Regions from separate parts of the Homo sapiens genome. Here regions 1, 2 and 4 are each linked to region 3. The links come from fine-mapping of genetic effects on gene expression. A gene starts in region 3. Each other region holds a variant in brackets. All regions are shown on one strand. Distances are between the middles of the regions.

Region 1 (2,622 bases), 51 kb after region 3:
CCACAAACACACATATGTGCACCATGCACATACATATACACACACCACACACAAAGGCACCATGTACATACACACCACAAACATACATACACACACACACCATACACATACACACAACACACACATACCACAAACACACAACATGCACACAACACACACATACACACCATAAACACACACAATGCACACACCACAAACACGCATACATACACACTTTTACACACACACACCATACATACACCCACACCACACACAACATACACACACCACAAACACATACACACACGCACACCACACATATACACCACACATATACACATATACCACACACACATGCACCATGCACACACATACAGACAACATACACATACACATCACAGATATGCACCATGCTCACAAATGCACATACACACCACACATACAACGTACACACAGGCACCACGCACATACACACACACCATGCATACACACATATACCCACATATACACCACATACACATACACACACTAAACACATACACATGCACACACACGTACACATACACACGTATACACATACACATGCACACGCATACACACACAATGTAAATATGCCCGTGGACCCAGGGTCCAACTGAGTGAACTCCCACAATTTGAGCAACACCTCATTCTACATCCTAACCCAAAGTGTGCTGTAAATACCTACAAGTGCATGGCGATATAAATTTATAAATGGGGGAGAAGAGACAAATCTCCCGTGCAGAAGAATTCTAAACCAATGGCGTAGACACTGCCCCTAAGGAGGAGCAGAGCCCCTCCCAGCCCCTCGACGTGGGCTGGCGCAGGGCCGTCCTTCCAGAGAGCGCGGGGTGGGAAGGGCTGGGCTCCTTCCGCGCGGCTCCACCTGCAGAAACCGATGGAGCTGATCCATCGTGGTTTGCACAGAGGAGCCTGACGGGCTCTGTCTCTGCAGAAGACGAGGCAGGCGTCGAGTTATGAGTCGCACCGGCGATGTTAGGATGGATGCAGATGCTGCTTTACCTCTGGAATCTTCTTCCAAGAAACCTATAACCCCAGCCTCCTCATGACAAAAAGAGCAGGCGAATCTCAGCAGGGGCACC[C/T]CGCCAACACACCCGGCCTCTTCTGAGCTGTCCAGGTCGTCAAAAGCAAAACGGCCCAGCCCAGAGGCCCCGGGAGACAGACGCTGAGGAACGCGGTCCTGGAACACAGAAAGGATGTCAGGGAAAACAAATGAGGGACTCTGGACCAACTGTGACTTTATTTGGTCAATAACGCATTAATACTGGTTCATTCATTATAACAAATACACCGAACTAAGCCAGACGGTAAAAACGAGGGGAACTGTTGGTGGAGCTGGGGGGCGGGGAAGCTCTCTGTGTTATTTCTGTAAATCTCAAACCCTTCCGAAAAATAAAGTCCATTCGTTTTTTAAAAATGCTAAACTGGGGCCGGGCACAGTGGCTCATGCCTGTAATCCCAGCACTTTGGGAGGCCAAGGCAGGTGGATCATCTGAAGTCAAGAGTTTGAGACCATCCTGGCCAACCTGGTGAAATCCCATCTCTACCAAAAACACAAAAATTAGCCGGGTGTGGTGGCGGGCACCTGTACTCCCAGCTGCTCAGGAGGCTGAGGCAGGAGAATCGCTTGAACCCAGGAGGCGGAGCTTGCAGTGAGCCGAGATCACTCTACCGCACTCCGGCCTGGGCGACAGAGCGAGACTCCCTCTCAAAAAAAAAAAAAAAAAAAGCGAAACTGACTGTGTTGTCATGCCCCCTCCTCCCTAATTGTGAAAGGCACAATTAGGTGTTGCAGTGGGCCCTGGAAATGGGGTCTCTGCCGGCCCCAGCATGGCAGGACTGGGGTGGCACCTCATGTCTACAGACAGGAGGTGTGGCCCAGGCGGGATCAGCATGGCTCCACCTGCAGAAGCCCTTGGAGCTGGCTGAGCCATCAAGGCACCCCTAGGCATGGGGGCTGCCTGCTGAAGCCTCACTTGATCTGTGTCATCAGAAAAACTCTAGGTGTGGTGGATAGAAGTGAGTCAGTCAGCTCAGTCTGCCATTACAAAACACCACAGAACAGAAATGTATTTTCTCACCTTTCTGGCTGCTGGAAGCCTGAGATCAGGGTGCCAGCGTGGTCAGGTTCAGAAGCTCCAACTCACTGTGTCCTCCCAGGGCCTTTCCTCAGCACGTGCATGTCAGGGGAGAGACAGACAGAAAGAGAGAGAGAAAGAGACAGAGGGAGAGAGAGATGGGGGAGAGACAGAGACAGGACAGAGAGATGGGGGAGAGATAGAGACAGAGAGGGAGAGCGAGAGAAACGGAGAGAGAGATGGGGGAGAGACAGAGAGAGGGAGAGAGAGATGGGGGAGAGATAGAGACAGAGAGGGAGAGAGATAGAGGGAGAGAGATGGGGGAGAGATAGAGACAGAGAGGGAGAGAGACAGAGGGAGAGAGATGGGGGAGAGATAGAGACAGAGAGGGAAAGAGAGAGAAACGGAGAGAGAGAGACAGAGGGAGAGAGAGATGGGGGAGAGACAGAGAGAGGGAGAGAGAGATGGGGGAGAGATAGAGACAGAGAGGGAGAGAGACAGAGGGAGAGAGATGGGGGAGAGATAG
Region 2 (2,755 bases), 39 kb after region 3:
CCATTCTCAACGGAGCTGGCGACGCAATGTCCACTCTTCAGTTGGGTCCATTGCCTTTTTATAATTCTGGCCGTCATAATACTATAAAAGCCAGCACTCCTTCTATCACAATCTGTTCGGTGGGGGAAAGGCTGTCACTTTCTTTCTTTCTTTTTTTTTTTTTTGAGATGGAGTCTCACTCTGTCACCCATGCTGGAGTGCAGTGGCGTGATCTCCGCCCACTGCAAGCTCCGCCTCCCAGGTTCAAACGATTCTCCTGCCTCAACCTCTCAAGTAGCTGGGACTACAGGTGCCCGCCACCATGCCTGGCTAATTTTTGTATTTTTACTAGAGACAGAGCTTCGCCATATTGGCCAGGCTGGTCTCAAACTCCTGATCTCAGGTGATCTGCCTGCCTCCGCCTCCCAAAATGCTAGGATTACAGGCGTGAGCCACCGTGCCCGGCCAAAGCTATCACTTTCTAAGTGCTTAACCTGTACCAAGCATGGTACTAAGTGCTTTACATATATATATTGAACACTCGTAACAACCTGCTGACATAGGTGCTGTTATTGGCCCAATTTTTCAGAAGGCAAAATGGAGACACAGAGAGAGGTTAGGCAATCTGCCCAATCTCACACAGCTGAAACACAGCAACAGGGTAGCGATCTGTGCCGGGAAGGTCGGCTGTAGGACCTGCGCTCAGTCATGTGCCACTTTGTTAGTCCACCTTTTGTATTATTTCTTTCCAGGTACTTAATATTGATTTTTTCTCTAACTTTTTATTTTGAAACAATTTAGGACTTACTGAAAAGTTGCAAGAACAGTACAGAGAGCTTCTGTACCTCCCTCACCCAGCTCCCACCACTGACAGCATCTTACATGACTGTAATATAATTACCAAAAGTGGGAAATTAACATTGGCACAGTGCTGTTCAATAAAGACCTTATTCAAATTTCACGGTTTTTTCACTAATGTCCTCTTCTGTTCTGTTCCATTTTGCATTTCATTGTTACTTCTCCCAGCCTCCTGCAGCCTGGGACAGTTCTTCAGTTTTTCCTTGTATTTCATGATCTGAACACTTTTATAGACTATCCACCAGTTATCTTGTAGAATATCACTCAGTTTGTGTTTGTTTGATGTTTTTCCATTTTGGAACGAGGTTATGCCTTTTTGGCAGTAATACTGCAGAAATGGGCTGGGCACAGTGGCTCATGCCTGTAATCCCAACAATTTGGGAGGCTGAGGCAAGAGAATCACTTGAGCGCAGGAGTTTAAGACCAGCCTGGGCAACATAGCAAGACCCCATCTCTACAAAAGAATTTTTAAATAGCCAAATGTGGTGGTGCATGCCTGCAGTCCAAGCGACTCAGTAGGCTGAGGCAGGAGGATCACTTGAGCCCAACAGGTGGAGGCTGCAGTTAGCCATGATCATGCCATTGCCCTCCAGCTTGGGTGACTGAAAGAGACCCTGTCTCAAAAATAATAATAACACAGAAATGATGTTTGGCGCGGTGGCTCACACCTGTAATCCCAGCACTTTGGGAGGCC[A/G]AGGTGGGCAGATCACGAGGTCAGGAGATCGAGACCATCCTGGCTAACATGGTGAAACCCCATTTCTACTAAAAATACAAAAAATTAGCCGGGCATGGTGGCAGGTGCCCGTGGTCCCAGCTACTCGGGAGGCTGAGGCAGGAGAATGGCGTGAACCCGGGAGGCGGAGCTTGCAGTGAGCCACTGCACTCCAGCCTGGGTGACAGAGCAAGACTCCATCTCAAAAAAAACAAAAACAAAACAAAACAAAACTTTACCAGGTGCACTCAAATGCAGGTTTCTTTGTTTTGGTGGGTTTTTTTTTTTTTTTGACAGAGTCTTGCTCTGTCACCCAAACTGAAGTGCAGTGGCACAATTTTGGCTCACTGCAACCTCTGCCTCCCAGGTTCAACTGATTCTCCTGCCTCAGCCTCCCCAGTAGCTGGGATTACAGGCATGCACCACCACACCTGGCTAATTTTTGTGTGTTACTAGTAGAGACAGGATGTCACCATGTTGGCCAGGCTGTTTTCGAACACCTGACCTCAGGTGATTCACCTGCCTCAGCTTCCCAAAGTGTTGGGATTACAGACGTGAGCCACCGTGCCCGGCCCTCAAATGCAGGTTTCTAATAACTTTGGAGATTGTGACATTAGAAAAGAGGGAAAAACTTTAGGACTCTCTTGGAGAGCTAAAATGTTCATGAATATCAAACAGGAGTTAACTGCATAGACTAAAGAAGTCTGAAGCTAGCCAGGCGCAGTGGCTCACACCTGTAATCCCAGCACTTTGGGAGGCCGAGGCAGGCAGATCATGAGGTCAGGAGTTCGAGACCATCCTGGCCAACATGGTGAAACCCCGTCTCTACTAAAAATACAAAAATTAGCCGGGCATGGTGGTGCTCACCTGTAGTCCCAGCTACTCAGGAGGCTGAGGCAAGAGAATGGCGTGAACCCCGGGAGATGGAGGTTGCGGTGAGCCAAGATCGCACCACTGCACTCCAGCCTAGACAGAATGAGATTCTGTCTCAAAAAAAAAAGAAGTCTGAAGTAATCTTTTTAACTTTGTTGAAAAGGTTGCTGATCTTTTGTTTTTCAGAGTCAAGAAAATTTTTCTGTTGAGCTATTTACAGCTTTTAGCAAATGAGTAAAGTATACTTCTGTAAACAAAATTCGGAGCGTATCTGTTTCTATCTGCCTGATTTGGAAACTATTTATATTCTTAATTTATGGCAATATAGTTATT
Region 3 (2,500 bases):
CTGGACATGGCTAAGCCCTTAGAGCTCACCCCAGCCAGCAGAAGGAGGAGGACTTAGGGTGTTCGACGTCGAGAAGCACTGTGAGTCGATGGTAGACACAGCCATTGTTAAAGTTAAATCTTAGGAATCTTAGAAATTATCAATAAAATTTATCTTATAGAGCCAAAGTCATCGTTACTCAAACACATCACTCTGCAGTTACACGGCTGCACGCTACCGTCATGTAAACTCTGGAATACTGACGTGGACCTGACCACCCGCTGAGGTGAAAGGCTACAGCAGGGTGAGCAGCTGCCCATCTCTGTAAATTCCACCCTCAGCGATGTCCTCTGCGGAGTCTGGCCTGGTGGGAGAATAAGCCCAGGAAAATGGGCCCATGTAGCACATCAGGAATTAAACAGGGCGCAGGTCGCGGTGCACATAGGCCTGCAGGCCACGTTCCTGCCCCTGTGACCCGCACTGTCCCCTCTGACAAGCTCAAGTGCACAGCATCAGCTCTGTTTGCTGCAATAGCCTCTGCCAAGGAAGGTCCAGGAAGAAGCCCAGAGGCCACACAAGGTGTTTCCACAGGGAGGCTGTAACCTCAGGAGCTGCTCAGAGGCAGCACCGGTTCATGGGAAAAACAGGCGGCAACTACAGGAAGCAGCTGGCACCCGTGTGAGGACCCAGGGAAGAGGCAGAGATGATCAGAACCTGGAAATCTGGAGGGTGCCCCAGGGACCAGCCAGCCAGAGCTCTGGGCAGCGTGGGTGCTGCTGGGCTGTGTGGAGCGGGTCTGGGAGCCGTCACCCAGGTGGGCCTCCAGGGGAAAGGGCCATGGCTTCTAACTCCACCGTCCAGGTCTCTGCTATTGGCATCCCACAGCCCCCTCTTCTGTCAGTGCTCCCAGAGTCCCCTTTCCTGGGCCTGGAGGGCTCCTTTGGGGCAGGCAACATTGGCCGCCAACCCTCTGACCTGCACCAGGAGACACGGGGACCTTTAACCCCCAAACCCGCATGGAGCAGGACTGCAACCCCAGCAAAGGACAAGGGATGTCAGCAGATGAGGCCTGTGACAAGTGAGATGAGGGCTTTTTTTTTTTTTTGAGACGGAGTCTGGCTCTGTTGCCCAGGCTGGAGTGCAGTGGCACAACCTTGGCTCACTGCAAGCTCCGCCTCCCCGGTTCACGCCATTCTCCTACCTCAGCCTCCCAAGTAGCTGGGACTACAGGTGCCCGCCATCACACCCGGCTAATTTTTTTTTGTATATTTAGTAGAGACGGGGTTTCACCGTGTTAGCCAGGATGGTCTCGATCTCCTGACCTCATGATCCTCCCACCTCAGCCTCCCAAAGTGCTGGGATTACAGGCGTGAGCCACGGCGCCCGGCAGAGGTGAGGGCTTTGGGGAAACGGTTGTGGGGCCTGGAGTGTGGAGGCGTCAGCGCAGGCCTGGCAGGAGCCCTGAACCGGGACAGTGAGGTCCTGCAGCTGCTGGCCTGGGGTGTGGAGACTCCCAACACAGGGGAAGTCTCCAGGACCCCACACCACTAACAAGATGAGACTTGTGCTCCTTTGGGCTCTAGAGAGGAAGCCCCTCTTAGCCCTCAGCCCCTCTTTCCTCCCTCTCCTAAAGTAATTTGATCCTCAGGAATTTGTTCTGCCCTTATCTGGCCCTGGCCAGCTCTGCATTTGACAAATGCCAGGAAGAGGAAACTGTTGAGAAAACGGAACTACTGGGGAAAGGGAGGGCTCACTGAGAACCATCCCGGTAACCCGATCACCGCTGGTCACCATGAACCACATTGTGCAAACCTTCTCTCCTGTCAACAGCGGCCAGCCTCCCAACTACGAGATGCTCAAGGAGGAGCAGGAAGTGGCTATGCTGGGGGTGCCCCACAACCCTGCTCCCCCGATGTCCACCGTGATCCACATCCGCAGCGAGACCTCCGTGCCTGACCATGTGGTCTGGTCCCTGTTCAACACCCTCTTCATGAACACCTGCTGCCTGGGCTTCATAGCATTCGCGTACTCCGTGAAGGTGCGTATGGCCCTGGCGGAAATCCAGGGGGTGCCGGTGAGCCTGGGGCTCCACCTGCCCACATGCTGCCTGGGGTGGGGACTTGTGTGTCCCTGTGACTGTGAGTTTGTGTGCACGTCTGTCCTGTGTGTGCCCACGTCAGTGGCTTTGTCTGTGTGATCTGTGTGTGTGTGTGGCTTGGGGAATCTGCCCAGTGCAGGTCTAGGAGGAGGCTCCAGGAGGCTGGCTGGCTGGCTCAGAGTCTGTCCCCGGCTATCCACTAGCCCAGAGCAGTTCTCCCTATAGCCCAGTAAGAAATTACACCTTCACCTTCCAGACTGGCACCCAGGCTCTCCCAGAAAGTGAGAAGGGAACTCACAGGTGACTTCACCCCATGGTGGGGAGAACAGCCTGTGCTGGGGCCAAGGCAGAAGGAGGATGAGCCCCGAGGCTCCTGGAGAGTCTGAGCCGGGTGAGGAAGGGGAGGAGGTGGTCCCTGATCTC
Region 4 (2,755 bases), 43 kb after region 3:
AATTGAACCCTGAACCCGGGCCGCCATTATGATGGCAGAAACCAAGAGAAAGTACGGCCACGTGGTTACAAGGCCAAGGTCCCAAGGACATGACGGACCAGAGGGAAGCCTCGTCCAGTTTACACACACACACACACACACACACACACAACACACACACCCCCACACACACCACACACACACCACACACACACCACACGCACACACACACCTCACACACACACACCACACATACCACACACACCCCACACACACAACACACACCCCCCACACACACACACCACACACACACCACACACAAACACCACACACACACCACACACACACCATACACACACACCACACACACACCACACGCACACACACACCTCACACACACACACCACACATACCACACACACCCCACACACACAACACACACCCCCCACACAAACACCACACAAACACCACACACACACCATACACACACACCACACACACACACCACATACACACCCACACACACCCCACACACACACACCCACACACACCCACACACACACCACACACACAACACACACCCCCCACACACAAACACCACACACACACCACACACAAACACCACACACACACACCACACACAAACACACACCACATACACACCCACACACACCCCACACACACACACCACACACACACCATACACACACACCACAAACACACACCACATACACACCCACACACACCCCACACACACACACCATACACACACCCACACACACAACACACACACACACACACACACACAGAGACAGAAGTCTGACTGGTGAGCAGTTCTTGCACTTGTGCCAGCATGACAGATTTCTGGGTTTCTTTTCCTGGGGGGCCCTAGTGACCCAACTGTAGCAGGACTAGCTGCAGACAAAACCCCTCAGACACCGAGTTAAAGAAGGGCTTTATTCGGCCGGGAGCTTTGGCAAGAGTCAAATCTTCAACAGCCGAGCTCCCCGAGTGAGCAATTCCTGTCCCTCTTCAGGGCTCACAACTCTAAGAGGGTCCACGTGAGAGGGTCGTGATCGATTGAGCAAGCAGGGGGTATGTGACTGGGGGCTGCATGCACCGGTAATCAGAACAGGACGGGACGGGGTTTTCACAGTGCTTTTCTATACAATGTCTGGAATCTATAGGTAATATAACCGATTAGATCAGCCAGCGGTCGATCTTTAACTACCAGGCCCAGGGTGTGGCGTTGGGCTGTCTGCTTGTGGATTTCATTTCTGCCTTTTAACTTCTTTCTCTGGAGGCAGAAATTGGGCATAAGACAATGTGAGGGGTGGTCTCCTCCCTTACGACTGGCTGTACCACAGCCCTGGGGGCCAAGCTGCAGCACAAAGGAAGTTACCTCTTTCCGTTCTGGCCAGGGCAAAATACGTGTGAGAAAACAGAGACATCAGCCACTCTGCTTAGCACCTAACATCACACTGGCAAGGCTCAAACTTGCTCCGGTCATCGTTAATCCAACCTCCAACCACAAGTTTCAACACGTGTTCTCTGGGCAAGTCGGTTGCCCCAAGTGATAGAAAAGATAAAAAAGAGAAAGGAGAGAGAGAAAAGCATCGCCTGAGGCAGGGTGGGGAAGGCAAAATGCTCAGGGAGGCCAGAGAAAGACCCGCCCATTGCAGGAACCCTG[A/C]GGACTTCAGGCGGCTGCTGTTGGGAAGGGACTTTTTCCGGCAGTCCCATCAGCTCTCAGGTTCCCCTTTTGCGAGAGGAGAAAGCTCCCCATGTTCCACGATCCTGTACGTGCCTAATCCTGTCACCCACAGCCGTCAGCAGAGAGTGCAAGGCAGATTAACCCAAAGAGAATAGCCGTTAACGTCCCCTCGTGCCGAACCCGTTCTCAGCCGAGAGGGACTTTTCTGAGAGGGACTTTACTGAGGGGGCTCTCTAAGCCCCTAAATCTTAAAAGGGACCCTAACCAACCCTCCTAAGGTGGGTCTCTAACCCAAGGTGGGTCAAGCATCCTTGCCTTGTATTAAGAGTGGGCTTTCACCCTCTCTGTCTTAGGACAGACCCTAACTCCCCTAAGTGGGCCTCTCACCCAATCCCATCCTTCGCCGGCTACCCCACCACTTACCCAGCGTCGTCCAGTCAGGGCCGAGTCTATTTCCTTTGGGTCGGGGGCTCCTCCTCAGTATTGTCCCTTCAGGGTTTGCCAGAAAGATGTTACCGGACCCCACTACTTACCCAAAGTTAGCCTTTAGGTCGGGGGTTTCCGCACTGGAGCCCCTCCTGAGGTCACCAGAGATATGTCACCTACCCAACGCTAGGTTTTGAGTCTGCAGTTTTTCTTCTGTGGTCGCCAGAAAGATGTTACCGGAAAGGGGTCCCGATCCAGACCCCGAGAGAGGGTTCCTGGATCTCATGCAAGAAAGAAATCAGGGGGAGTCCATAAAGTGAAAGCAAGTTGGCCGGGCGCAGTGGCTCACGCCTGTAATCCCACCACTTTGGGAGGCCAAGGCGGGCGGATCACGAGGTCAGGAGATCGAGACCATCCTGGCTAACACGGTGAAACCCCGTCTCTACTAAAAATACAAAAAAAAAAAAATTAGCTGGGCGTGGTGGCGGGCGCCTGTAGTCCCAGCTACGCGGGAGGCTGAGGCAGGAGAATGGCATGAACCCCGGGGGGCGGAGCCTGCAGTGAGCCGAGATCGCGACACTGCACTCCAGCCTGGGCGACAGCGAGACTCCGTCTCAAAAAAAAAAAAAAGAAAGCAAG

The links. PIP is the estimated chance that this variant, and not a neighbour inherited with it, causes the effect.
Region 1: its variant is fine-mapped to the expression of IFITM2 in blood mononuclear cells (TOPMed, PIP 0.98).
Region 2: its variant is fine-mapped to the expression of IFITM2 in whole blood (INTERVAL, PIP above 0.99).
Region 4: its variant is fine-mapped to the expression of IFITM2 in whole blood (TOPMed, PIP above 0.99).

Annotation. Positions count from the first base shown.
Region 1 is chr11:357,458-360,079 of GRCh38, forward strand. No RefSeq gene overlaps it. Among named protein-coding and RNA genes, the nearest start is that of B4GALNT4, 11 kb to the right of the region's middle. The variant C/T (reference allele first, on the strand shown) is at 1,101.
Region 2 is chr11:345,466-348,220 of GRCh38, forward strand. No RefSeq gene overlaps it. Among named protein-coding and RNA genes, the nearest start is that of B4GALNT4, 23 kb to the right of the region's middle. The variant A/G (reference allele first, on the strand shown) is at 1,532.
Region 3 is chr11:306,422-308,921 of GRCh38, forward strand. IFITM2 (interferon induced transmembrane protein 2) reads left to right here and starts at 1,395. Exons shown (of 2, transcript NM_006435.3): 1 at 1,395-2,017. The coding sequence starts at 1,772. RefSeq lists enhancers at 1,636-2,055, 2,436-2,500.
Region 4 is chr11:349,384-352,138 of GRCh38, forward strand. No RefSeq gene overlaps it. Among named protein-coding and RNA genes, the nearest start is that of B4GALNT4, 19 kb to the right of the region's middle. RefSeq lists a cis regulatory region at 1,432-1,908. The variant A/C (reference allele first, on the strand shown) is at 1,670.